Linked DNA regions of Homo sapiens. The protein of the gene in region 1 purifies or fractionates together with the protein of each later gene. This does not show direct contact. Each region holds a gene or a part of one and is shown on either strand. Other genes may lie near its edges. The genes, in order: SLC26A4 and FNDC3A.

Region 1 (10,728 bases):
GGGTGACAGAGCAAGACCCTGTCTCAAATAAATAAGTAAATAAAGAGAACTGGGAGGTTTCATCCCCACACATGGCTGGCCTGCAGCCACTGACTGACTCATTACTGGGGGAGAAAGCAGGTCCTCTTGCCTCAAGGAGGCATAACCTTCTGGTACTCTTCCTGTGGTGGTGCTCCCTGTGAAATCAGGGATCTACGCTGGACTTCAGAAACCATGTCTTTGATCAGCTTCTTCCCCTTCCCTATCCTGCTCCCCTCACTGCTTCATAAATTTCCTCAGATGTATTCTCAATAAATCGCTTGTGCAAGAATCCCCATCTTGGGCTCTGCTGCTAAAGAATTCAACCTAAGCCTTAGCACTTTCCTACACACATACATTCATAAAGAAACACACAGAGACTCACACCCTTGAGAGTCCTCCTGTTCTAAGGAATCTAAGTAATCTCCAGCTTTGCTCTCCTCATAACAACATCCCCCCATTGTCAATATTCACCCCACCCCCACCCACTGTCAAGATACACATTTCCATACATTACCAGCTCTGTGGCACAAATTGGAAGTAATATCTTTCTGGGTTCAAAATGTTCTCAGAGTTTTTATGCTTTTTGTTTTTTAAAAAAAAAATAATAGAGACGGGGTCTCACCATGTTGCTCAGGCTGGTCTCAAACTCCTGGCCTGAAGTGATCCTCTGACCTTTGCCTCCCAAAGTGCTGGGATTACAGATGTGAGCCGCCATGACCGGCCTATTTATTTATTTAAAACTTAACTCTAGCTTGGCAATCAGAGGTTATTTAAAGGTTGTTTCTAAATATGGACTTATGAAGGAAATCAAAACAAGGCAGGAAGGAACCACTAGGTAGGAAAGATGTGAGAAGAAATTTACAAGTATGAAGAGATAAAGAAAATTGAAAAGAGAGTAATTTTTTCTTTTGTATAGGAGATAACCTTATATGGTCAAAATGATAAGGAGAAAAGAAAAGTAAATCTTTGTCCTAAGGTACAATGCCAATTTTAAAAAAGGAAGTATAGGACCAAATGAAGGTTTAAGCAAGTTGTAGAAGGTTTGTAGAAGATAAATATCATGAAAAATTTTATGTGATTGAGTTGGCTAAAAGTAGAAGGGAATTATTTATAAGTTTTTCTAAAAATTGAGCATTAATATTAAAGTACACTGATGGAAGGCTAAAGTGTGGGCCTATGTGTTGGAACAATAGAGTTTTCTCAGAGGATTGGTTTACTCTTAATAGAAAATTGTGAGAGGATTTTCTCTTCCAGGTAACTGGCCTAGAAAACAGAGATTTCATGTTTCATCAATATAACTCTTCTTGTGCTTTTTGCCTTTGAACTCTTTTTTCACTTTGGTTTTATTTCATAGTGACCTATGATCCGATTTTGATCAAATGTTTTAAACCTTTGGTATTTGACAAACTTCTCAAAAATCAAAATTAAGTCTTTTTGACCTTGAACTAACTTTGGGATGTTCCAGAGGACCCTGGAATTTCTTAAAGAATCTGTAAAAGAGAGATGTTAAACCAAATGGCCTTATCTGATAGGTTAAATTATATGGGAAGCACTGTTAAAATAAGAAATGATGTTTAACTTTCTTTGTGCTATATTTTTATAGATATGTTATTAATATGTTCCAAAATTATATAACATTCCTAGAAATGTGATAGGTCTTGGTATAAATGCTACCAGTCATAATTTTGGTTATTTTAAATTGTTGTGTGCCACAGAAATATCCAAATATCCTTGTCAATTGGGTAACTCACATCAGATCTTTAAATATAGCCACTTTAAGTCTTGTTGTCCACAGTTAATTGTTTTGTTCTGATACTTTTTCTGAAAGCTCTTTGTAAGCCATTATAATTCTAAAGTGCTGTGACTTCAAAGAGTTATATGGGAAGAATGAAAAGAACTCTGACAAATACAGGTTTCTAATAACTTTGAATTCATACCATTCGTTGGAATTAAACTACCAGCCAAGATCAAACAGAGCAAGAATTAATTACATGAGACTGAATGAACTGATGGAGAAGAATTACAGGTTTTATGGCTTTTTTATTTGAAACATTGCTGGTTCTTTTAATATTTGTTTTCCAGATCTAAAGAAAATTTTTCTTTAAAGCTATCTGCAGTTTACAGCCACTTGGTTAAGCATACTTTTTTTTTATTTTTTGAGACAGGGTCTCACTCTGTCACCCAGGTTGGAGTGCAGTGGCACCATCTGGGCTCACTGCTACCTCCACTTCCCCAGCTCAAGTGATTCTCAGCCTCAGGCTCCATGCCCAGCTAATTTTTTGTATTTTTTGTAGTAACGGCGTTTTGCCATGTTGCCAGGCTGGTCTCAAACTCTGAGCTCAAAGCAATTGTCCGCCTTGGCTTCCCAAAGTGCTGGGATTACAGATGTGAGCCACCGCACCCAGCCTTGTTAAGCATACTTTCATAAACAAAAATTGAAACATTTGCTTTTCCTCTCTACCTGATCCTTCCAGAATTTGGAAACTCTTTGTGAGTATTCTTATTTTTATGGCAATATGATTATTTACATGAAAGTTCAATAGAATCTGTTCTTTTAAATAGAATACAATTGGAAAACATTGGTTATATTATCAAGGCTTTGAATAGAATATCATATTTGAAAATGTGCACAGAATTCCTGGCTTCAAGGGCTGCTAGCCTTACAATGAGTGAATAAAAAGTCGTTCCTTCCTGGGAGGCCCAGTAACTTCAAGATATTAGATACATCAGGCAAAGCCTAATGTCTGCCTTGGTTTGACTTCATAGCATCAAGACGTTTTAAAAAGTCCAATCTGAGATTCCTTGTCAAAATTTCTATCAAAGCAATTATTTTTTGGAGACATGGTCTCACTGTGTTGTCCAGGCTATAGTGCAGTGGCTATTCACAGGCACAATCATAGTGCACTGCAGCCTTGAATTCCTGGGCTCAAGCAATCCTCTCACCTCAGCCTCCCAAGTAGCTGGGCTCACAGGCAAGCAATACCTCGCCAGGCTTGGCAAAGCAAATTTGAAAGGAGTCACCTATGTAGTTATTCTTGCTGTACTGTGTAAATAATCAATCAGGCCAAGTTTGAGACCAAACTTATTTTGTAAACAAATTGGTCTACCATGATCGTCTTTGATAGAAATGGAGGTGACTATAGAAAGAAAAACATATGGTTCAAAAGAAAAGCATAGTAAAACTGTTCTTAGACTGTAGCCCTGTTCAATATTTATGAGTTTTTATTATCTACCTGTAGACTGAGCTGGATTCTTAATTCTTTTAGCTTTCACTAATATCTGGCTACAACACTCCAATGAAGACCAAGAACTACTCAGTTCCTGAAGCTCTGTAAGCTGAAGCTGAGCAACTCAGTGTAAATTTCAAGAGATGAATCTCATGCTTAAACTGTGGGCCACATAGAGAGTTCGCCAGAATGCTGGATGCCACAACTAGAGACAATAAAACTACAAACCAAAACAAGAAGTTGTCAACTTCATGCTGTAGACAGCTCCAAGACTGTCAGAACAAGACTCCCTATCATAAGATGCTTATCCCTTTTAATTTTCCCTTACTTGTGCCTACCTCTTTCACTTGGCAGGATAGTGCTGTAGTTAAAACTTCACAATGAGTAGCTTCTTTGGGTAACTTACACTTTCTGCTTTAATTTAACCAGTCATGGAATGCTAGATTACCTGCTAACTCAACAAGGAAGCATCTGTGCAGTTGGGTGACACTTCTTGTTCCACATATATAAATACATCAGGTACTACAGAGAAGACTTCTTGGTTAAAACAGGTAGTCTCCTTGTCAGGCTATTCAATTTTAGTTGGTTTGATTCATGAGAATCCTGGCTAAGGAGCATACTATAAACCCTTGGTATTATCTCCCTGATAGTCATAATAGCAGTCTTCCTGGTACATTATACCCTCTCAAAGTTTTAAATGTTTCCAAAAAGCCACCTGTCAGACATCGAATGGTCTCTCTCTGAAACAACAAAAACTCAGAGACATACATGATAATGAGGAGGGCACCATAAGCTACACATGACCTCCTGAGACCAGAAACCCAAAATGATGGTAACAGAGTAGCACTGATCTCCTACATTTTGTTCACTCTTACCTAGGTGAGAGCCTGATCAAAACGGGGAAAATCATCAAACAAAAATGGTAAAGGCCATTGTTTTAGTCTTCTTGAGCTTTGCCCTCCCAGAGCTTTGCAGCTTTTAGTAGCCAGAACGAAGGAGTAGAGCAGCCTTCGGTGGCTCAGGGGCCAAGCAGCTGTGCCCATCCTGGGGTCATGCAAGGCACAGGCACATAGTAAAATAAAAAATAAAAATAAAAGGCCATTGTTTTAGACTAAGCTCCCGCACTAGACGACAACAGACAAGACTAAAAATCAAAATGGAGTCACTCATGCTAAAGTTTCAAGTTATCAAACCTAAACTAAATTGTTATCTGATACTTGAAGAAATCAGGAGAGAGAGGTAATAGCAAATTTCCTAAAACAGGACAGTTTAAATTTCCAGTTGGCATAATAATAAAGCTTCCTCTGCAATAATCCTCATACAAAAAAGTATCCTGACATGACCTCATGTTAACTAATCCATTATTTTCCTATTGTTCTGTCTCACTGTCTCTGACTTACAAGAAAGTAACTTTGAATGGACTAATATACTCTTTGTTGCTTGCTTTTGCTGTCTTTGGCCTTTTCTGTGTATAATACTGAACTCCTGCTTAGTTCCTTGGAACACTTATTCTGTTTTATGGAATGAAGCAGTGCCAGATTCCAGAACTGCAAATAATGACAATTGAGATCTTTAAAAGAAAAAAAAAAAAGGCCTTCAGACATAATGTGACCACAGTCCCAGATAGGAGAAAGGGCTTACGGGAAAGTCTTACAGGTAGATATGTAGATATATGTATTTACCTTGAAGTGATGCAAAATACACATTCACATCAATTCTTTGGAATTCTTTGACAATCTAAAAATAAAAAAGGAGAGTTTGTAACAATTAACAACCTTATCTGCCCATAATTCAGTAGCATTCAGTTACTTGCTCAGGAGAAACATTATTACTTTCATGGTTAATCAGGACTTTAAGGAAAGGTTATTATTGCAAAACCATGGAGGTTTTCAAACTACAGTAATGGTATAATTAGGATTATATCTCAAGAGATGGCAACATCCAGCGCTCAATAGCACAGCACTTGATAGCGTGGAGGTGCTAAATAAGCATTTGTGGAAAGAAGAGAGTACAGGAGGCTTCTTAATATAGGCCCTGCTGATTGGAGAAGAGATATGGGTGTGGCTATGCTTATCGGGTTCAAAATGTTACTATTGACCTAAAAGTCAAGGCCTCTATTTTGAATGTCAGTGTCCTACTGTGATTTTATGCTACAGTTTTACAAGATGTTACTCATTGGGAGAAACTGGGTAAGGGGTATATAGGATCTAAATATTATTCCTTACAACTACATGTGAATTTACAATTATGTCAAAATAAACATTTAATTTTAAAAAGTCAAGACACAAGACCCATAGTCAATAATAAAAGAGAATTTGAGAATTATGGAGGAAAACAAATCAAGACCTCTGTTCAAGTATAAAGTTTGGAGTCTTCTTTAGCTATCATAACTGTCATTATAATATTTGAAAGTAAATATTCGTTGTGTGGGAAATATTCTGGCATTAAATATGTTAAGACTGTCCCCAAAAGTAATTCATTGAACTCTCTGGCCAATATAGTCTACAATGGATCTCAGCCAATGCTTAGAGTGAAATGTACAACAAAGAACAAGAGTGATTTCAAATGAGCTAATAACAAAATCTGCTAAGAGAACTAGAACAGAACCTGTCAGCATATTCTCATACTCTTTTGCCAAGCACAATCACTTCTCTACCCTACCTACCTAGTACCCACATCCTGGAATCATTTCCTCCCCTTATAGAGGTAGCAAAGAAGCCTTAGCTAAGTGGAACCTCAGTTAGGAGTCAGCTTTATATTATTACATCTGATTGTTGGTGTCTTGACCTGCTTACTTTTCTGCCTGACCCTTTTGATACCTACCTGAAGCTTCACTGAACTTGATGCTTCAGGTGATGTCCTATTCATCTTCTTTGGAGCACTTACTACAATTGTTATTTATAAGATGACTTAATGTTTGCCTTCTCCTCCAGACTGCTAAGTCCCACGTAGGTAGAAACTGTGTCTACTTCATCACTAGTCTCTTGTGCCTGGCAGAGTGCTCAGTACACATTAGGCATTTCACATCTATTTGTTGACAGAATTAATGAACTTCAGCTTGCATAACTGGTTTCTGATATCATTAATGTTTCTATCCTGCATACTCCTCAACTCTTGCTTTGACCTTCCAGATGTCTGACCTGCTTCCTACTCTAACCTCTTAATAATGCCTGGCTTTTCCAGTCCTAACATACACCTGGTATTCCTTATCCTGTTGCTGTTAACATAACAAATAGAAATGTAATACTTAATAAACTTTTGCCCATTTTTTTCTTTTCATATACCACTTGTTATACATTCTCAGAAAGATAAAACATAATAAATGTGAATTAATTTGCTGGGGAGTATCTTTGAACCAGATATTCTTTTTTTTTTTTTTTTTTGAGATGAAGTCTCACTCTGTCACCCAGGCTGGAGTACAGTGGCACAATCTCAGCTGCAACCTCCACCTCCCGGGTTCAAGCGATTCTCCTGCCACAGCCTCCTAGGAGCTGGGACTACAGGTGTGCGCCACCATGCCCAGCTAATTTTTGTATTTTTGGTAGAGACGGGGTTTCACCATATTGGCCAGGCTGGTCTTGAACTCCTGACCTCATGATCCACCTGCCTCAGCCTCCCGAAGTGCTGGGATTACAGGCGTGAGCCACCATGCCCAGCCTGAACCAGACACTCTTCTAAACACCTTATATCTATTAGCTTATTTAATCCTTGTAACAACCTGTGAAGGTAGATACCATCATTACCTCCATATTACAGATGAAGAAACTGAGATATAGACAGATTAAGCAACTTGCCCAGGGTCGTACTGCTAGTAAGTGGTGAAGCCAGTATCTCCCCCAGGTAGTCTGGCTCCAGAGCCTATGCTTTAAAATATTACACTTTTTTACAAAAGCATTCACCTAGAAAAATTACAAAGCCCATGTATTTGCCCTGTTGCAATACTGGACAACCCACATCATTTTACTATTGCCAAAGCTCCAAATGTATAATTCAGAAAACCAGAACCTTACCACCCGCAGTGATCTCACTCCAACAACGTCCAGGAAAGATATAGCTCCACAGTCAAGCACAAGGCTATGGATTGGCACTTTGGGAACGTTCACTTTGACTGGAAGCTCAGAGTTCCAATCCACTTGAATCTCTATTTCCTTGGTTGGGATATCAAGTTCCTCCAGATCTTCAATATCCTCATCAGGCTCAAAAGCATTATTTGTTGAAACAGCATCACTTATGATGCCATTCTAAACGAAGAAAACACTGTCAACTTAATTGTCAAAGATTTGAAATCTTTCAACCATTCATATCAAATTATCCAAAAGACCTACACACTGTTCCTTGGTAAGCAAGACATCAAGGAGATGAATTTTTAAGGATGGGTTTCACCTCAGCCCAAACTTTGATGTTGTCTAGGAAGAAAACTGGGAGAACAGAGGAGCCAGGAAACTTTTGTTTTCTGGATGATTGTGGAACTTTGCCAAGAAATACACTGGCCAGAAGAATCTGAGTAAAAGTTAACAGCTCCAAAAGTTTATGGACTTAGACTGCCTTCTATGGTGGGTAGTTTTCTGGCATTGAATTTGCACTTATTTTGTTCCTTTCAGTAAAAATAAAGTATAGAAAATAATGCAGACACTGTTCATGGTGGGGAAAAAAATCACATCCTGTGTTTCCAGGCAGCGCTGCTGATTTTATTTCATTCCCTTCCACTCCCGCTTGCCTATAAGAATAGCTCAGTTGTTCTTTGATACGTACATGTCATTTGTTCATTCACATCTGGATACTAAAGAGGATAGATTTAATTTTAGACCCTCTAACTGCTCTCATCAGGGAAAGGAAATAATTTAAGGGGGAAAAGAAAGATGTCATCTCACCTTTGTTGCTCTTAATTGTCCACTTTTTATTAGTTTCTGTATTTTCCTCAGCGCTTTCAGCCTCTTATTATATACTCTAATGGCATCAAATCCAACCTTTGGAAATAAATGTCAAGTTACTTAAAATGCCTGGCACCTAAAGCTTATTAATGGCAACTGTTATCTGGAAAGGCTATTTCTCAAAGGGTATAATTCCTTGAGCTATCCTGCCAAAAAAGAAATTGTAAGGTCTGATGGAGTAGATCTCTGTCTACTCCCAGGCTACCCTACTCCTACCCAGAAGCTCTGAGAAGACAGTAGCATATCAAAGGCTCCAAGACAGTAAAAGACAAAACAGAAACACACACACACCCCAAAATACCCTCTTTAGTTTAAGTCTGGGTTTTCCAAATTCCCTTGGTATCACAGAGCCCTTTTGTTATTGCAAAATCTGTGAACATTCCTCTGAATCAGTTTGCCCTGGAACTCACTTAGAAAAACACTGATTTAGAGGCAAACTCCAAGTTCAAAGCATAGCATGGCATTTGGTGCCAGGATTTTCTACTTATTTATTCCACTAGTATATTTTACTTTTTGCTGCAACTGGGCAACCCTACCTCCAATACATGTTTCCACTGTCTCTCAGCTCACATAGTTCTCAAACACTTGACATGATTTCTTTCCTTCAGCCAACTGCCGCACAAAGCCTGTTAGTCCAACTAACCTGGATCTCTTCCTTCTATGAACTCTCAACTGTCTATACTACTTATTTGAAACTTACTCAAATTCTGCCTAGAAACATCTCTAATGTTTTTGTCTGGCATAGTTATTACTACCTGGGTTTTAACATATGTGTTTTTTTAATCCCCAAATAGACTGTAAATTATTTGAAGGCAAGGATGTTATATTTTAATTCTCATTGCCCTACACAAAGGGAAGAGGGTCTAGGGCCTATTCCTGATTGGACCCCAGTAAATACTTGTAGAATGAATGAAGTCTCAAAAGAGGTTAGAAAACAAATTTCTAGGGATAAAATACTTACTGTGGACTTGATACATTTTTTAAAACCATCGACATTGCCATAGAAAATAGGACTGGAAAATCTAAGAATCTTCACTCCTTGAGGTTCTTCAATCTGGCATTAAAAGAAATTGTCTGGGATTAAATAATTTCAAGCCTCAAGTATTTAATTACATTTCTGGCTACTTAGCAAGGAGTCAAGTCACAGTTGCTCAGAGGAGCTGGGTAGCAGCACTCAACTTTTCTTTCTTTTCTTTTTTTTTTTTTTTTGAGATGGAGTTTCACTCTGTTGCGCAGGCTGGAGTACAGTGGCACAATGTCGGCTCACTGCAACCTCCACCTCCTGGGTTCAAGGGATTCTCCTGCCTCAGCCTCCCAAGTAGTTGGGATTACAGGTGCTGCCACCACACCCAGCTAATTTTTCCATTTTTAGTAGAGACAGAGTTTTGCCACATTGGCCAGGTTGGTCTCAAACTCCTGACCTCAAGTGATTCACCCGCCTCAGCCTCCCAAAGTGCTGGGATTACAGGTGTGAACCACCGTGCCCGGCCTCTACAACTTTTCTTGAATAGGGAGACAACAGGTTACAAAAACTCTTGGACCTCTACAGTCTCATAGAAGGTCAAAGTTAGAAAGGGCCTTAGAAAGCAATTTATTCAACCCTCTGATTTCCAGAAAAGAAACTGAGGCTTAGAACAGTGCCATGATTTGCCTGAAGTTCATACCACTGACCCTCCTGATTTTGCTAACATTCTTTAAAAGTAGCAAAGAAAAAAAGCAAAATCAATGGGATTTGCAGAACTGAGGCCTATGATATCATCTGTTCTCACCCTGACATACAATGGCCACACCCAAAATAGAACCCAGGAATCACAGAATCATAGACTTTTCTAGTCTTCAGGAATCAGCAATTTTAGTCTAGCTGCTTCAGATGAGAAAACTGAGGTCCTGAGAGGCTGAATGACTTGGGCAAAGTCTCACCAAGATGGAGCCTAGAAGTCAGAATTCCCTAACTCAGCTTAGAGCTCCCTCCCCAAAGCCAAAAAAATCTCTAAATCATTTTAGCTCTTAATGGCACTTGGCTCAACATAACAGAAAGATCACGGAAATAAATTAAGTAGCAGCTACTGAAATCCCAGTTTCAAGGTCCAACTTTTTTTAATGTTAAGGTAAAATTAGACTACAACTTCCTAGGGTTGATATTATTATTATTATTATTTGCTAAATTTGTATTTTCTTGATTTACTTTCTCTGCTTTTTTATCTTTGTTTCCCCTAGTCACCACTAAGCAATTTTATTTGCAGGTGACACAAGTCCATCAATGGGATGTTTAATTTCTTTGTTTTTCATTTCCTGTGTCATATTTTATTTCTTCTAATACCAAGGATAAAGCAAAGTGTCAAATAATAAGGTCTTGGTCATAGAGAACTTGATAATCTCTTGTTAGAACTGAATAAAGAAAATCTTACAGAAGATAAGAATTATATACCAGATAAACAAAATTTTGGATGAACATCTAGAAATTGCCTATTATTTTTAAATTCCTCTTACAACAGTTTTATATTAAAATGACATTCAGCTAGCCAGGTGCAGTGGCTCACGCCTGTAAT
Region 2 (17,712 bases), on another chromosome or scaffold:
TTCTAATCACACCAGTTAGTGGGAAGAAGGGATGATGACAGGAGAAACATCTTGTTAAAATTTTAATATTAAATCTTATATTTAAATTTTTTAGCACTACTACATTAAATTTTACTATATTGTCTTGTTTCATTTCATAGATCATCTGTTAGTTTTCTATGTGTAGGTTAACTGGAAAATTTTTTATCCCAGGCTGGCTACCGTTAGCCACCTGTATGCTTCTGAATTAACTCCCTCTTTTTCCCTTTTGTCTGAATCCTCCAAATCATTGAATGCTCCGGAAAAATAAAATCCTGGTTAACACTGTCAAGCATAGTTATAAGGGTAATTAATTTATCCCAAATTAATAATAAGCATTAAAAAAAACATTCTAGGATTATCTTCTTTTGGTGACGTCTGTGTCTTCACTTCCTCTATCTGTGTGAGTAATTGAGACCTGATTTATTTTAACACACATGTAATGATTACTCTTTACTAGTCACATTTCTACAATATAATAGTAAGCATATTTTATTACTAATTTAAAAATTTCTCCCTCTTCCCTGACCAGCCAGACATAGCTAAGGGCTGAGACATCCTTAACCCCCCGAAAAAAAGAGGGAATGCATGATTCATATTCTCATTGTCTTTTGTAGTTTTAGGCAAAGAGCATTTAATTTATACTTTATCAATTTTTAGTAATATTTGCGCTGTTTTAAAACATTTGCATTTTTTAAGATGTTCATGACATCCAAGGCTTGTGTATTTTATAATCTGCCAGTATTTTTAAAATACAATTTGATGAAGTAACCAAAAACGTTTTTTTTTTGAAACATTGTTGGTGCATTTTTGAATGAAAATGAATCTAGATCGTGTCTTTGAGAATGGTGTAGGGATATGCACATGATTTCCAATTTTATTAGCCAGATAACTAAGTGATTAGTGTTTCTGGTTTTTTTTTGTTTGCTTTTGTTTTTTTTGTTTTGTTTTTAGCATTGCCTAGCGGACTTCAAATAAACTCACAATATTGTAATTCCGAAGGTTTAGAATATGGTGCATATTTATTCCATTGAGCCTTTTACTGCTTCAGTTTATCACATTGCAAAACAAGAAATATGGCTCCCATATGTGTGAATGTCAAAAACTACTTGTTAAAACGAAATTAGTGGCCATTAATGTTGAAAGGCAAATTTTGTACTTTTACATGTATTGTGAGCTTTTATAATTTTCTTAATATTTTGGTCTTATTTCAGATAATTATTCAGTGGTCTCTTTTTATATCTTTATTCTTACCTTTCTGTCTTCCCACTGTTGTGGTTTTGCTTGTCTTTAATATATACTTTCAAGTTTTCTGTGTAACCTGTGGTCTTCCATCAAGTTCCTTTGTGGGTGTCATCTTTCAATGTTTCCAATCACTTATCACCCATTACCAGTCCTTGGGCTATTTTTTCCTCCAAGATTGAGAACTACACCTGGGAGATGTCATGTGCTTGCAGGGTGATGCAATGTTATTAAAGTGGGGATACAAACATAGTGTGATGTCTTCCTTCCTTCAAGTAGTTTACAAATTAGTTGGGGGTACTAGACTAATAGTATCATTAGCAAAAATTATAATATGGTATTATTAAGTTGTGTGACACCAACTGGAATTTAAAGGGAAGTGAAGCCAGTGAGAGCTAGAACAATCCTGGAAGGCATTTGGAGGGAGTCAGAGGAAACTTAGAAATGATTTAGATAACAAAAGGAAAGGCATTCCAAAAGAGATTCACAGGCAGAGTTGGAAGTAGTAGTAGAATAAGTAGTCCAAGAGCATCCAAGGACAGAAATTGGGACGAAGAAAGAAAGAAAGTTAGGTCGAGATGTTAGCTTAAGCACCAGGGCATCAGAAGAGGAAAATAGGCAGAGCTGGACAAGACAGTTTGTATCATTAGGAACCTATCACTGAAAGAACTATACCTCAGCTTTGACATATTAATAGCTTAAGCTTTATGTATAATGGATAGCTTATATGTGTTTGTTTGTATGGCTTAGGTCAGGGGTCGGCCAACTTTTTGTGTAGAGTGCTAGATAATTAAATATTTTAGGTTTTGCAGGCCATTTACAGTCTCGGTTGAATGTTCTTGTTTGTTTGTTAGTTTTTTATAATCTTTTAAAAACGTAAAAATTTTTACATTGTTGTCTCAAGAGCCAAACAAAAACAAGCCATCTGTGGACTGGATTTGGCCAGGGGACCTAGTTTGCTGACTGCTAGGTAATAATTGGCAAAGTAATTGTCCATATAGCACATACTGTGAAATTTCTTGCATCATCTTGTCTATATGGTGGTTTGGGCGTTTTATGACTATCATGTATATATTTTTCCTTATGTTATCCTAAAAAAAAAGTATGTAGAAATAAGTGCTTCTGTAATTGTTATTTTGTGGCCAGACTTCTAACAAGAGCCTAGAATAGGTCTCAGAATTAGGAAGTGAAAGACGAAAAGCCTTTGAGTCAGGCCTTACTACAGTGAAAATAGCTACACAGTGGCTTGATTTAGAATTTGTATAAGGTTAGGTGTATCAACTGCCTGTGCTGGTTTTACATTTTTAAAAACAGCTGGCAGGTTAAAAACCTTGTCTAGGATGCTGGTGGTCTGTAAGTGACAACAGAGGAGCAGGCAGTAGGGATCTTTGTTTTTAGAAGTAGTCTAGGATGAGTTAATAAAGGGACAAGCAGTTGGACATTCTGCAGTACTCCAGAAAGAATCACTCTGTTATGGAACAGTCTAATAATTGATATTTACATTGATGAGCTTGAGTCATCAAGAAAAGATTATATCATGTGCACATTAAGGCACGGAAGAAAGACCTAGAGATCTCTTTACAAATAATTAAGATTTTTTTAAGATAAGTTATGGTGATTTAAAGGATATAAGTATCAGCTGTTTTGAAAAGTAATTTACATGAAACATCTCTGAAGTTTCTAAATTTATAGATATCTATTTCTAAGGCAGTTCTGTTTCCTTCAGTATACTGTGGTTCATGTGCCATTACCAGGTGAATAGTGATGCCTCACGCTGTGGCTGCACAAATCAATTGGCTGGGGCAACTGTATTTTTTGTGGCATCAAGAGAGCAAGAATACATCATGAGAGCATTTTTTCATTAAGCAGGCATCAGTACATTCCATATATCAGGGTTAGTATTAGGTGCTGGAAAAAGTACAGATGTATAAGATGGGAAGCAACCTGGACAGAATCAGTGATGCTTCTTTCTTCCTGTTAAAAACATTAAAACCAACCAAACAAAATCATGAAACTTAACTTTTGTACTTTAATTTATTATTAGCATTTTTCATACTTAGTACATACAGTACCGTAATTTTAAGGCAATATAAAGCTTTTGATTTAAATAACAGCCTTCATAAATTGCTACTTAATACAATTTTTACTTTTTAAATTTTAGTTTAAGGAGAAATTCATGCCCTCCCTCTTTTTTTGTGAATGCTTGAAACAGCTTCACCATGCCAGCTGTTTCCATTTGCTAAACAAGAGGTAAATTAAAGTACCTTGGATGGTGACTCAAAAGTCTAGTTCTTAGTTCTAACTTCACCACTTATTACCTATATGATTTTGGGTTAGTTTCTTGCAATCTTGGTTTTCTAAGCATTAAAATAGAGAATAATATCTATCCTGTTTTCCTCAAAGATATTGTGAGAACCCACAGAGATGTTGGAAACTATAAAAGCATTAAAATACATACCATAAAAGTGCTTACATTAATGCTACTATATTGGAAGCAATGCAGCCTTTTTTTTTTTTTAAGACCAGAGTTCAAGCTTTATCCTCCAAAGTTCTGTAAACATAGTATGTTTCCAGTAAACATTCAGTTGAGCTCATTGAATTTTAGAACCTATACTTGCTTATTTTTAAAATCCTATACAAACCTGCCAGATATGTGGTGGTATTCTCATTTTACAGATGAACTATACTTCTGATTGACTTCCATATCTCTTTCTCCTTCACTTCTTGAGATCTCTTATGTGCTAGTTGCTAGAAATACAAAGTGCAATGTATACTTTGAAGTAAGCCTTGGTGTAAAAGTTACCTAAGTTTGGTAAATTAGATTGTGTATGTTAATCAGCCTCTATCAGAAATGCTGGGGGAAAAAAAAGTGTTGTATCTGTTTTCTTTCCTCAGAATCCATATTTTAATATATATTTGAACTTTTAAAAACTTAAATGATTTCGCTTCACTACTTCTTCAGTGAGGGATTACTTTAATTGGTTTATGTATATTCTAAACCGACAGACACATAATTTGGGAGGCAAAAAAATCTTACTTCTCTAGGGGTTCTAAACAGATATTTAAGTACACTTTAAATCACAGTTTAGACTTTTATTAGAAAGTAATTACGTGCTTTGCTTTATAGAAGTATATGCCATATACAGCAACTACTTTTGTTGAGCCATAACTTGAAGGATTAGTCATTTCATTTACTTTAAAATCAGTTTTTCTTAAGATTTGCTTAAATAAAAAGTGAAAATTCATAATTTGCGATTTTATGTTTAAATTTTCTAAATTTTTTTTGTTTTCTTAAGACAGACATTCTCAATTATGTCTTTGTTCTTATGACTTGATTTTTTTCCATGTAATATTTTCATTTGTAATATATACCTAAAAAAAATTTTTAGCATAGTACCTTCATAGTTTATGAAGTACCTTTTTGTTTCTTTAGTAACTATTAGGATCAGCTTTTCCTGATGCTTCAGATTGGTATTCCTGAAATAGTATGTTCGCATTTTTGTTTTAATCACTTGAACCTTACTAAAACTGGCCTAGTGTGTGTGACAGAGTAGCCTTTGGGTAAAATGTAGGGGCTACTGCCCCTCTAACCATCTTTTAGGCTGCTTCCAGGATATTTAAAAAACATGAATTTATTCAGATCATTCCCCAGTTTTAGAAATCGAAATCACAATACAATTCCTGCTGCATTAATTATAATTTCCTTTGTCTTTGAGAGTCCATACTCTGTTGATATCCTATTGTGTCATCATTTCTTACCTCTTTACAACTTTGTGATATAGTGTAGAGAACATATTTCTCATTAGGCAGCCACAGGATTGTTAGTTGACTTCTCATACTGGCTGTATAGAAACATGAGTGTGCTACTTTACCTGTATGAGCCTTGGTTCGTTCATTTTACAGTGTAGTAATAATAGTAGCTATCTCCTAATATAGACTGTACAAGAATTAAAAGATCCTATTTAACATGACAAGTAAAATGCTTGCCATAGGATATTTATATCTAGAACTTTGACAGACATACCTAATCATTGTCACTCAGGCATCCTGCATATCATTCATTTATTCATTTGCCTATCATTTGTTGAACATTTAAAATGTCCTAGATACTTAGAATATGAATGTTGAATGTCACAAAAATGAATGTCACACTCCCTCCCCTTTAGAAATTTACAGAATGGGATGAGAGATAATGATATGTAAATAAATACATATTTTTAAATAATTAAAATATCTTGTGTCTTTTCACTTGTGTGAGTCCTTCCTGTCTTTTAATATTTAAATGCAAAATGTTTCCATAATACCCACAGAATATCTGGGTTGTATATATCATACTGTAATGTATATATATTTTTTACTTGTCTAAATCAGCTATTCAACTATGAACTCCTTGAGTTTGACCAGTACTACTGGAGTCAGCAACTTTTTTAATATAAGAGAAGGTAGTAAATATTTTAGGCATTGTGGACCATATGGGCTCAGTTGCAACTACTTAAACTGTGCTACAGGAGCACAAAAACAGCCATAGATAAATTATAAACAATGGGCATGACTGTGTTCCTATTAAACTTCATTTACGAAACTAGGCAGCAGACCAGATTTGGCCCACAGGCTTTAGTTTGCCAACCTCTGCAATGGTGCATGCATATACTTTTATTTGTGCTTGACAAATAAAAGGCACTTAGTAAATAATATGATTAATAGGCATTAAACACTTTCTGTATTCTGGGTGCTATTGCAAAAAACTTTATATGTATCAGTTTACTTAAGCCTTAAAACATCTCTCTGCGGTAGATACTATTATCACCAAATGTCATAGAGTAATAATAGAAGCACTTTCATTAATAGATAGGAACACAACATTGGTTCAAAAGTCTTAGGCAATACATTAAGAACAAGAAAAATAATTAACCTGTAAATAAAGGGGGGAAATGTATCACTATTATTTAGAGTTGATATGACTGCTTACAAATACAAATAAATATAATACAAATACAAATAGCAAAAAAATATGAGATAACAGAAAAAGATTTGTATTAAAAAATTTCAGTAAGCTGATTGGCTATAAGATAAAGTTAGAAAATTCATTAGCCTTCTTATATATCAACAATAACCAACTATGAAATACAGTAATAAGAAGTAGCAGCCTAAACTATAAAATACTTAAGATTTTAAAATGTGTAATAGCTATGTGAAGAAAACTGCAAAAAGATGTGAATGGATGGAGGAGTATTCATGAATGTGTCAACTTAATGCCATAAAAATGACAGCTTTTACTAAATTATTCTATAAAGTCAATGCAGTTCTAATCAGAAATTCAACAGGAGTTTTAAAATGGAATTTGACAAACTGATGGTTCAAGTTTTGAGAAGGGAGCATGCACAAGAATGGCCAAGTAAATTTCAAAAAGAAGTATAATAAATGGGACCCATCAAAGGTCGAAACATTATAAAATTACAATTATTAAAATAAGAATTTGGAGTAGGAATAGGCATATTGATCAAAGGAATAGAATAATAAATTCAGGAGAAGATCCATAGATAAACATGGATAAAGAAGAATTGTATGATAAATGAATGAGTAATGGAAGAACTGGTCTATAAAGGGTGTGGGACAATCAACTGTTTAATTGAAGTAAAGATAGTTAGGTACCCACTTCGTGACACTCTCAAAACTAAGTTCCAGGTGGACTAAATGGTTTTTTATTTTTATTTATTTATTTATTTTTGAGATGGAGTCTCGCTCTGTCACCAGGCTGGAGTGCAGTGGCGTGATCTCGGCTCACTGCAACCTCCGCCTCCCAGGTTCAAGCGATTCTCCTGCCTCAGCCTCCCAAGTAGCTGGGATTACAGGTGCCCACCACCACGCCCAGCTAATTTTTGTATTTTTAGTAGAGACGGGGTTTCACCATGTTGTCCAGATGGTCTCGATCTCTTGAGCTTGTGATCTGCTCGCCTCAGCCTCCCAGAGTGCTGTGATTACAGGCGTGAGCCACTGTGCCCAGCCCCGAGTGGACTAAATGTTGATAAATAAAAAATAAAATGACAAAACTTTTAAAAGTTAATTTAAAAACTCGTTGGAGTAGAGAAGGCCTTTTAAGTGAGACATCAAACTTAGATGCCATTTAAAAAGGAAGGCAAGCAATAGACTGGGATAAAATATTCGACATGTAATAGACAAAATTAATATTCAAGGTATATAAGGTGTACCTACAAATCAATATGAAAAAGATAACCTGATAGAAAATGGGAAAGAATGTAAGCAGGAAATTTATAGAGGTAGAAATATAGGTAGCCTGTTAAGTTTTGAAGGAATACTATTGAACCGAATATAAATAGCTTCATCTTTTTAGGAGAAAAGTTTGGCAGTATCTATCCATTTCAAATGTACGTTCTCCTGAGCCAGAAGTTTTATTTCTATATGTCTGTAATATAGAAATGCTATCATTCATTAATAGAGAGTATTGCATGATTATTCCATGCAGAGGAGAAAATGTATGATGGGAAACTGGAAGTAATAAGATCATCATTAGAACAGTTAAATTATGGTGTGCCCTTACACTATAATATTAGATACTTATGAAAAAACATGAAATAGACATAGATGTACTTCTTAAGATATTTTACATGAAAGGGCGAGATACAATATAATACATACACAAAGACACAATTCATACACACACAAAAAAAATACAATACACAAAAGCAGTGTATGTGATTTCACTTACATAACAACCAATCCCAGAAAACCTAACACACAGGTAAGCACAGAGAAAAAGACTGGAAGGGTACACCACAGTTGTTAGCTATAGAAATAGGAGTTGGATTAGGGATCAGGAAAGAGTTAAAAACAATGTTTGTATGTGTATTTTCAAGTATAAGCAAGTACAGCCTTTGTGATATAACAAACATAACAACACATGCAAGGCTTTGTTATGATTGGTCCTGATTAGGACCATTCCTCCTGGGTGGACAGCTTTGATTTATGTCGGTTTTCCCTGCGTAATTTTTAATAGCACTTCCTTTCACTTGCAGAAGCTTCCCAGTTGGTGTCTGAAGTCATTGGTGTTTTTAGAAATAGCAATTTCTGTATAGTGTTGGATCTGAAACTGTGTTAAAGTGGGTTAAAGAAGTGAGAATTCTACCAGTGATTCTTAACCTCTATAACTACAACTGCCAACCAAGACAAAATAAAGTGCTTTTTATTTTCAGAGTTTCTGTTATAAAAACACTTTGCTTTTTTAAATATAAAGTTATAATTTCGAATGTAGTTTTTTTAAAGTCCCATATGTCTGGATATTTTGATCCTCCCCTTTAATATTAAAACCTAATATTTCAAGACAGTTAATGATAGAGGTCAAGAGAGGAATCAGAAGCTTAAGAGGAAGACAGAGTAAGGAGAAGGAAGTTGTTTTTTTTTTTTTTTTTTTTTTTTTTTTGAGGCGGAGTCTTGCTCTGTCGCCCAGGCTGGAGTGCAATGGCGTGATCTCGGCTCACTGCAACCTCCGCCTCCCAGGTTCAAGAGATTCTCCTGCCTCAGCCTCCTGAGTAGCTGGGACCAGAAGCACGTGCCACCACACCCGGCTAATTTTTTGTATTTTTTAGTGGAAACGGGGTTTCACCATGTTGGTCAGACTGGTCTCAAACTCATGACCTCATGATCCGCCCACCTCAGTCTCCCAAAGTGCTGGGATTACAGGCGTGAGCCACTGCGCCTGGCCCGGAAGGTTTTTTTAAAAAGAAGTTGAAGGAAGATGAGTATGATTAGAGGCAATCTTTAACCAAGGCATAGTTGTAGATTTATAAACAAAGAATCTGGTCATCTCAGAAAGGACTACTTTAAGGACTACTGGATTCTGCAGACAAATCTACTTATAGGAAATAAAGAAATGTTACTTGATTTTATTATGATAAAATTATTTTGGAGGAATTAGTGAAGGAAACATGTTAATATGGTTAAGTTATAGTAATACAGTAGCTTTTACACAGGAACTCAAACTTTCTGTTGTGAATTTAGTTACCAATGTATTACTGTGGCCAGAAAATATTCAGAAACTACAGGTTTAATCTTCAGTCCAAAAATCACACCAATGGATTTGAAGTTCTACAAGAGCAAAGTTAACAATCTATAATATAAAAACTAAAGTTTTATATAATACTTCTAAAAAGGACAGTAAAATATTTGGAAGTGAAAATAGGATTGTCCCAGGTGTAGTTGCCTTTTGGCTCTAAAGGGTAGCCTATGTGCTCCAAAGACACTAGACAGCTAGAGCTATATGTGGAACTTAAGAAGATGTTACTTGAAAGAAAAACTGATCTATGTGCACACTATCAGTCCTTTAATGGACTGGGGTTCGTTTCTTGGAAGCAGTTCTTTCTCTCTTGTTTCCATAGTTTCCTGACTGGAAGTATCTTTTTGATCAAGATTTCCTTTGAAGTCTATTTTAACAGGATTTTCATGTTAGTATTAAGGTATAATTTCTTAGTGGGAGAATGGGGGCTGTATCTCCTAAATGTCTAATTAAATTTAAATTTAGTATATCTGACTAAGAAGGGTGAGGATGGTGGCTTGAATGCCCTCTTCCCTTTTAAACCTTTCTTCACTTAAGGGACATGAAAGAGTGAGGCTTATCCATCCGACCAACACTACTCTTTCCTTCTTTCCAGTGGATGTGGGATTGGAGAAGAATAAGATAAATAAGTTACAGTAAATTTGTTGCTAACAATCTGTGTAAATTATTGATTTCTTTGTAAGTGTATGAACACTTTCATTAGGTTAAATTGTTGATATTTTAAAGTTTTTGACCTCAGTGGCAGTTTCATATGGTTTGACCTATTGCATTATGAAACTATGGCTATAATCACTGCCCTGTATATAAAAATGTTATGGCACTTAAACAAAAATACATTATAACTTATTTAAATAGCATAAATTTGTGCGTGCTTTGGCAGCACATATACTAAAATTGGAACGATGCAGAGAAGATTAGCATGGCCCCTGTGCAAGGATGACACACAAATTCATGAAGCGTTCTGTATTTTTCAGACTCTAAACCAACAAAGATAAAAAAAGACAAAGAAGGGCATTACATAATAGTAAAGGGCTGAATGCAACAAGAAGAGCTAACTCTCATAAATATGTATGTGCCCAATACAGGAGCACCCAGATTTATAAAGCAAGTTTTTAGAGACCTACAAAGAAGCTTAGACTCCCACACAGTAATAGTGGGAGACTTTTAACACCCCACTGTCAGTATTAGATCAACGAGACAGGAAATTAACAAGGATATTAAGGACTTGAACTCAGCTCTGGATCAAGTGGACTTAACAGACATCTACAGAACTCTCCACCCCAAAGCATAAATTCATAAACAGTACATCACTGATGAAATGTCAACATCCAAGCCAAATTGGAATGTTCATGAATACACCTACTTTAGCAACAGGTAAAGCCAAAAATATTGTTACTGCAGATATGTATCATTATACATTAAAGGGTTAAACAACCTTCTCCAGAATCTAAATTGCATATGAGAATGATAAAAGCCATAATATAGTAATTTATAATTTAAAAGCTTGTAGTATGGCCAGGTGCTTGGCTCACACTTAATAGTCCCAGGACTTTGGGAGGCTGAGGTGGGAGGATTGCTTGATATAAGGAGTTTGAGACCAGCCTGAGCAACATAGCAAGACCTTGTTTTTACTAAATAATAAGTAAATAAGTAAGTAAGCCAGGCATGGTGGCACATGCCTGTAGTTCCAGCTACTTTGGAGGCTGAGGTGGGAGAATTGCTTAAGCCCAGGAGCCTGCAGTGGGCCATGATTGTGCCACTGCACTCCAGCCTGGGTGAGAGAGTGAGAACTTGTCTCAAAAAAAAAAAAAAAGATAAGAAAAAGCTTATAGTAATTTATAAGTTAAAGCTATCAGACATGAAAACCTTAAGTGTTCAGCAAAGTATGGATAAACATATACATTTAAGGAAACTACACAGGGCTGGAGAAAGAGCCAACTAAAAAGATTGTATATAGAACAGTATCCAAGCTCACACAGGGCCAGAAGAAGTGCCTGTTTCCACTAGCTAGAACAGAAAGCCTCATAATTCACAAGGCATTCAGTAGAGTACTCTGGAGGGTTTTGCATTAGTAGTGGGGAAAAATTAATTACATATTAAATGCAGCTCTGTTCTTGCCTAATCCATCGTAAAAGCAAGTCCCAAAGAGTCAAACTTTGTCCGAGTCCCTTAGCCACATGTTATAACAAATCTCCAGATTATTTATGGAAATACAAAAATATCCAACAGCCAACAAGATAAAGTTAACAGTATCTTACATGCAGTTCAAATTACTGAGTCTGCAAAGAAGCAGGAAAATACAAACCATATTGAGAAAAATTAATCACTTGAAATTGGCCTTCAAATGATACTGATGATGATAGTCATTAAAACAGTTATGACTGTTGGAGAAGCTAACAAAAAGATTGAACATGTTAAATAGAGATACTGTCTGATTAAAATTACGTGTCAAAGACATACTACATTAATGGCATGTTAGACTTTGTCAAAGAAAAGATAAGTGTACATGAAGATACAGCAATAGAAACTATCCAAAATGAAGCACAGAAGAAAATAGAATTTGGAGACAATAACTGAAAAAGTATTTGAAGAAATAATGGCTATTTTCCAAAATAGATATAAACTATAAACCAATAAGCACAATAAGCATAAGAAAGATGAATAAAACTCTGCTAAAACACATCATAATCAAATCACTTAAAGATAACTTTTTTTTTTTTTTTTGAGACAAAGTCTCGCTCTTTTGCCAGGCTAGAGTGCAGTGGCACAATCTTGGCTCACTGTAACCTTCGCCTCCCAGGTTCAAGCGATTCTCCTGCTTCAGCCTCCCGAGTAGCTGGGATTACAGGTGCATGCCACCATGCCCAGCTAATTTTTGTATTTTTAGTAGAGATGGAGTTTCACCATGTTGGCCAGGATGGTCTCCATCTCTTGACCTCGTGATCCGCCCACCTTCGCCTCCCAAAGTGCTGGGATTATAGGCGTGAACCACCGTGCCTGGCCCATAAAGGAAATCTTAAAAGCAGCCAAAGAAAAACAGAACAAAGATAAGGGTGACATCAGATCTGTCATTAGAAGCAATGTAAGCTAGAAGACAATGAAGCAATATCTTTAAAACATTTTTTTGCAAAAACTGTCAACCTGGGACTTTTTACCCAAACTGTCTTTCAAAATAAAGGCAAAATAAAGATTTCAAATATACAAAAGCTGAAATAATTTATCACTTTCATTTATGAACTAAAAGACATGTTAAATAGAGTCCTTCAAGCAGAAGGAAAATTAAACCACATGGAAACTTGGCCACAAGGAGTTTAGAGTACTGGAAGTGGTAACTATCTGGGCAAATATATAGGATTTAAAAAAAATTATTATTTGAATATCTTTAAAAGACAAATGACTGTTTAATATAAAAATGATGACAGTTGCCAGGTGTGGTGGCTCGTGCCTGTAATCCCAGCACTTTCGGAGGCCAAGGCAGGCAGATTGCTTCAGCCCAGGAGTTTGAGACCAGCCTGGGCAACATGGTGAAATCCTGTCTCTCCAAAAAAAAAAAAAAAAAAAAAAAATTAGCCAGGCATGGTGGTGCATGCTTGTAGTCACAGCCGCTCGGAAGGCTAAGTTGGGAGGATCGCTTGAACCCAGGAGGCGGAGATTGCAGTGAGCTGAGATCACACCACTGCATTCTAGCCTGGGCAATAGAGACCCTGCCCTCCCCTAAAAAATGACAACATGAGGTTTAAAACATGTAAAAGTAAAATATACAATAATAGCAAAAATCCCAGAGAAATTGCAGATTTATTGTTGTAAGGTTCTGATACATATTCCTGAAGTAGTGTATTACTTGAAGGTATACAGTAATAAGTAAAACATGTGTATTGTAAATTTTAAAGAAACCACTCAAGTAACAAAGAGTTGTAGCCTATAAATCAACAAGAGAGAGGGGATGGTATAATAGGAAATAATTCAAAATGAAGCAGATGAAGAGGGAAAAGGGGACAAAGAACATTTGAAACAAATAGCAAGATGGTGATGTAAATCCAGTCGTATCAACAATCACATTACATATAAATGGCCTAAACACCACAATTAAAAGTCAGGGATTGTTGGATACAATTTTTTAAAATTAAGACCCAAATATTTCACATCTACAAGAAATCCACTTTAAGTGAGTTAAAAGGATGGAAAAAGATATGCCATGCTTACACTATCCAAAAGAAAACTGAAATCAGTAAGTTAAACCAGAAGTTAGGTTACAGAACAAAGAATTCTTACCAGAGATAAAGAGGATTATTTCATACTAGTAAAGGGATTAATTAAGAGGGCATGCAATTATAAATATGCATCTAGTATAGGAACTGGCCTGGGGGCAGTGGCTCATGTTTGTAATCCCAGCTCTTTGGGAGGCTGAGGGGGTTGAATCAGTTGAGTCCAGGAGTTCGAGACCAGCCTGGGCAATGTGGTGAAACTACGTCTCTACAAAAAAATACAAAAATTAGCTGGGTGTGGTGGCACACGCCTGTAGACCCAGCTACTAGGAAGGCTGAGGTGGGAGGATTGCTTGAACCTGGGAGGTTGAGGCTGCAGTGAGCTATGCTCACACCACTGCACTCCAGCCTGAGTGACACAGCAAAACCCTGTCTCAAAAAAAAGAAAAAAGGAAAAAAAAAAGAGAGAGAATGTTTCTGAATATATGCTGGAACTGCAAAGAGAAATACAGATGCTCTTTAATTCATGATGAGGTTATGTCTCAATAAACCCACCTGGTTAAAATATGTCAGAAATGAGTTTAATTCACCTAACCTACTGAACATCGTAGCTTAGCCTAGCCTATCTTAAATGTGCTCACAACACTTACATTATCATATGGTTGATGAACAAAATCATCTAACACAAAGCCTATTTTATAATAAAGTGTTGAATGTCTCGTGTAATTTATCGAATACTGAAAAGTGGAAAACCGAATGCTTGTATGGATACTTGATGTATGGTTTCTACTAAATGTGTATCTCTTTTGCTCCATCATAAAGTCCAAAAATTGTAAGTTGAACCATCACAAGTTGGGGATTGTCTGTATACAAATAATGCAATTTTAGCAGAGATTTCAATACCCCTCTCAATGGAAAGTAGAAAGAATGTAAAGCCTAAAACTATGAAATTTCTTAAAACAGGAGAAAATCTCTGTGACCTTGCATTAGGTGATTTCTTAAGTATAGCATTGAAAGCACCATTCATAAAATGACAAATCGATAAATTGTACTTTATCATAATTTAAAACTTCAAAAGACATTGGTAAGAGAATATAAAAACAAGCCACAGACTGGGAGAAAAATATTTGTAAATCACTTATCTGGTAAAGGACTGCTATCTAGAATATATAAAGCACTATCAAAACTAAATAATAAGAAAACAGTCTAGTAACTAAATGGACAAAATAATCCAACAAATAGTCAACCAAAAATATACCTGGATGGCAGATAAGCACATGAAAACAACATCATTGTTCATGGAAATGCAAAGTCTCCAGTTTACAAATGGTTAGTAGGAAAATTTGAGAGATGACGGGTAAGTTCATTATCTTGATTATGGTAACAGTTTCACAGGTGTATTTATGTGTCAAAATTTATCAAATTGTACACTTTTAAACATGTGCAATTTGATATATGTCAGTTATACCTCAGTAAAGCTATTTCAAAAATCAAGAGTAGTTGACACATTGTATTAGGTTGGTGCGAAAGTAACTGGTTTTTGCCATTGCTTTCAATTAAAAGTACCATTTGTACCATTAAAAGTAATGGCAAAAACCACAATTACTTTTGCACCAACCAAGTAGTTATAACAACTACTTGATGCGTGTTTGTTTAATACATTTAACTCATTACTCTGCCATTTCCCAGGAGTATTTGAAAGTTTCAACTTTGTTTAATCTACAGGAAATAGCAACTTCAATCTAAGGATAGTATATCATACTCTCCTAGTATATTGATTTGACCATAATATCCAAAGGCAATTAAAAATTCTTCATTAAACTTGATTCCTCTACGAATACTTTCTTATCCTTAGATCAGTATTTTTATCTGTTTCTCGTTGAAGGATAATGTATTCACATCTGGGATGAGGCTTTCCAGAATGAGGTATACACCTTACATTGTTATCAACTTTACATCCTTATTATCAGTTAGTACTTAATGTAAAAACTTACTTAGTCTTAGAGTTGTATGGCCCAGAGACTAGCAGCATCAGCCTAACCTGGGAACTTATTAGAGATGTGATTTACTGGGCCCCACCACACACCTGTTGAGTCAGAAACTCTGTATGTGTGGCCCAGGAATCTGTTTTAATAATCCCTGCAGGTCATTCTGATACATACCAGGATTTGAAAGCTGTGATCTTAGAGCAACAATAGGACTTTAGATTCTTAGATACTTATAGTAGTTTCATTTTTAAAAATCTCATATGATAGCACACTTAAGATTTGTACATTTCTGGTAAAAGGAATTTGACAAAAAAATTTTTAATGAAGATGTGTACATTTTACCATACATGAACTTTTTTTTAAGGAACTAAAAATTTTGAATGCTAGTAACACATGCAAAAGTGTTTAGGGGTGAAGTATACTGATGTCTGCTGCTTTGAAGTGCATTTAAAAAAGATCGCTAGAGGAATACATGCAATTAAATCCTGTCAATTTTAGAACCTAGGTGGCAAGTATATGGGTGTTTGCTGTTCAGTTATTTCAGCTTTTCTGTGGGTTAAAAAAATCCTCATAATATAAAATCCTTCCATGACTCCTTTTTAAATTTTTGATCAAGAGAGTGAAATGTGCCCAGAATGTGCTCTTAGGCAAAATAATGGTAGATAGTAATGAAGTTTTAGTATCTTAACAGCAATTATGAATAAAGATATAGAAAACTGTGTTTCACTAGAATGATATTACATTTGTTAATCTTAGAAATTGACTATTTGAGATTTTTCTAATCAAATTAAAATGGAAAGTGTAATCTTGCTAATGTTCTTTAAATTACCTCTATTGATTGTCTCTTCATATATCCAGATGAAAAGATCATCAGCTATATATGATCTAGTTAAAGTCACTTTTAAGGACTGATATAAATTATTGATTTTTTCAAAAATAAAAAAGTAGACCAATGTGGTCTTCAGAAATAAAAAAAATTACTTGCTTTTAAAACATTATTAAAGGCTTGACAGTCAAATGGATGGTACTTAGATTAAAAGAGGTTTTTAAAGACATGGCAAATAGTAGTGTGCACATCTGATACAAATCCTGATTCAAACAAGTTTTAATAAAAACAAGACAATGCAAAATTTGAACACTGACTACATATTTGATGATTTAAGGAATTATTGAAGTGTATGTATGGTAATGGTTTTGTAATTATGTTTTAAAAAGGAGTTCCTGTCTTTCAGAGATACATACTGAAATATTTGCTGTGGTTGAGCGCAGTGGCTCACGCCTGTAATGCCTGCACTTTGGGAGGCCGACGCGGGCAGATCACAAGGTCAGGAGTTTGAGACCAAGCCTGGCCAACATGGTGAAACCCCATCTCTACTAAAAATGCAAAAATTAGCTGGGCGTGGTGGCGCATGCCTGTAATCCCAGCTACTCCGGAGGCTGAGGCAGGAGAATTGCTTGAACCTGGGAAGCGGGGGTTGCAGTGAGCCGAGATGTGCCACTGCTCTCCAGCCTGGGTGACAGAGCAAGACTCCATCTCAAAAAAAAAAAAAGAAATATTTGCAAATGAAGTTTTGGAATGTCTTAGATGTGTTTCATAATACTGCAAGACAGGAAGTGGGGTATAGATGAAACTAGACTGGTCATGAGTTGAAGCTGGGTAATGAGTACATGGGGTTCATTATACTATTATGTTTACATTGGTGTATGTTTGAAGTTTTCCACAATAAAAGGTTTTAAGAAAGATGTAGGTTAAATTTAACTCTTACATCATGATCTGAGAATGAAATCATCACTTATTGTGGTGTTTCAGTGAGAAAATATTTTCCAATTATATCTGACTTTAAAACAACTAATAATAATATTAATAAGGTCTCTATGTTGCCCAGGCTGGTCTCAAACTCCTGGACTCAGGTGGTCCTCCTGCTTCAGCTTCTTAAAGTGCTGAGATTACAGTCGTGAGCCACTGTAAGAGTGAAAGGCCTTTTTATTTATTTCTTTTTTAATATTTTCAGATATATCTGACTTCTAACAAAATACTGTAAGGGAGCCTATTTCTTGATTGAGGACTGCCTTTTTTTTTTTTCTTTTAGCATAACAATCTTAGTTGTAGCCTTTTTGTGTACCAAATCTTGTACTGTTTTATACTTCCAGTATCCAAAGATATGAAAAAAGTGAGCATGGGGAGAGA

Evidence for each region.
Region 2: the proteins of SLC26A4 (region 1) and FNDC3A purify together in Homo sapiens (affinity purification with mass spectrometry; 2 studies listed by BioGRID and IntAct, with this or other methods). This does not show direct contact.

The regions. Positions count from the first base shown.
Region 1 is NC_000007.14:107,698,588-107,709,315, reverse strand, and holds part of SLC26A4 (pendrin), read right to left. Parts: intron 9,234-10,728; coding exon 9,141-9,233; intron 8,216-9,140; coding exon 8,120-8,215; intron 7,490-8,119; coding exon 7,259-7,489; intron 4,986-7,258; coding exon 4,931-4,985; intron 1-4,930. UniProt on the Homo sapiens protein: Sodium-independent transporter of chloride and iodide. Mediates electroneutral chloride-bicarbonate, chloride-iodide and chloride-formate exchange with 1:1 stoichiometry. Mediates electroneutral iodide-bicarbonate exchange.
Region 2 is NC_000013.11:48,977,716-48,995,427, forward strand, and holds part of FNDC3A (fibronectin type-III domain-containing protein 3A), read left to right. Parts: intron 1-17,712. UniProt on the Homo sapiens protein: Mediates spermatid-Sertoli adhesion during spermatogenesis.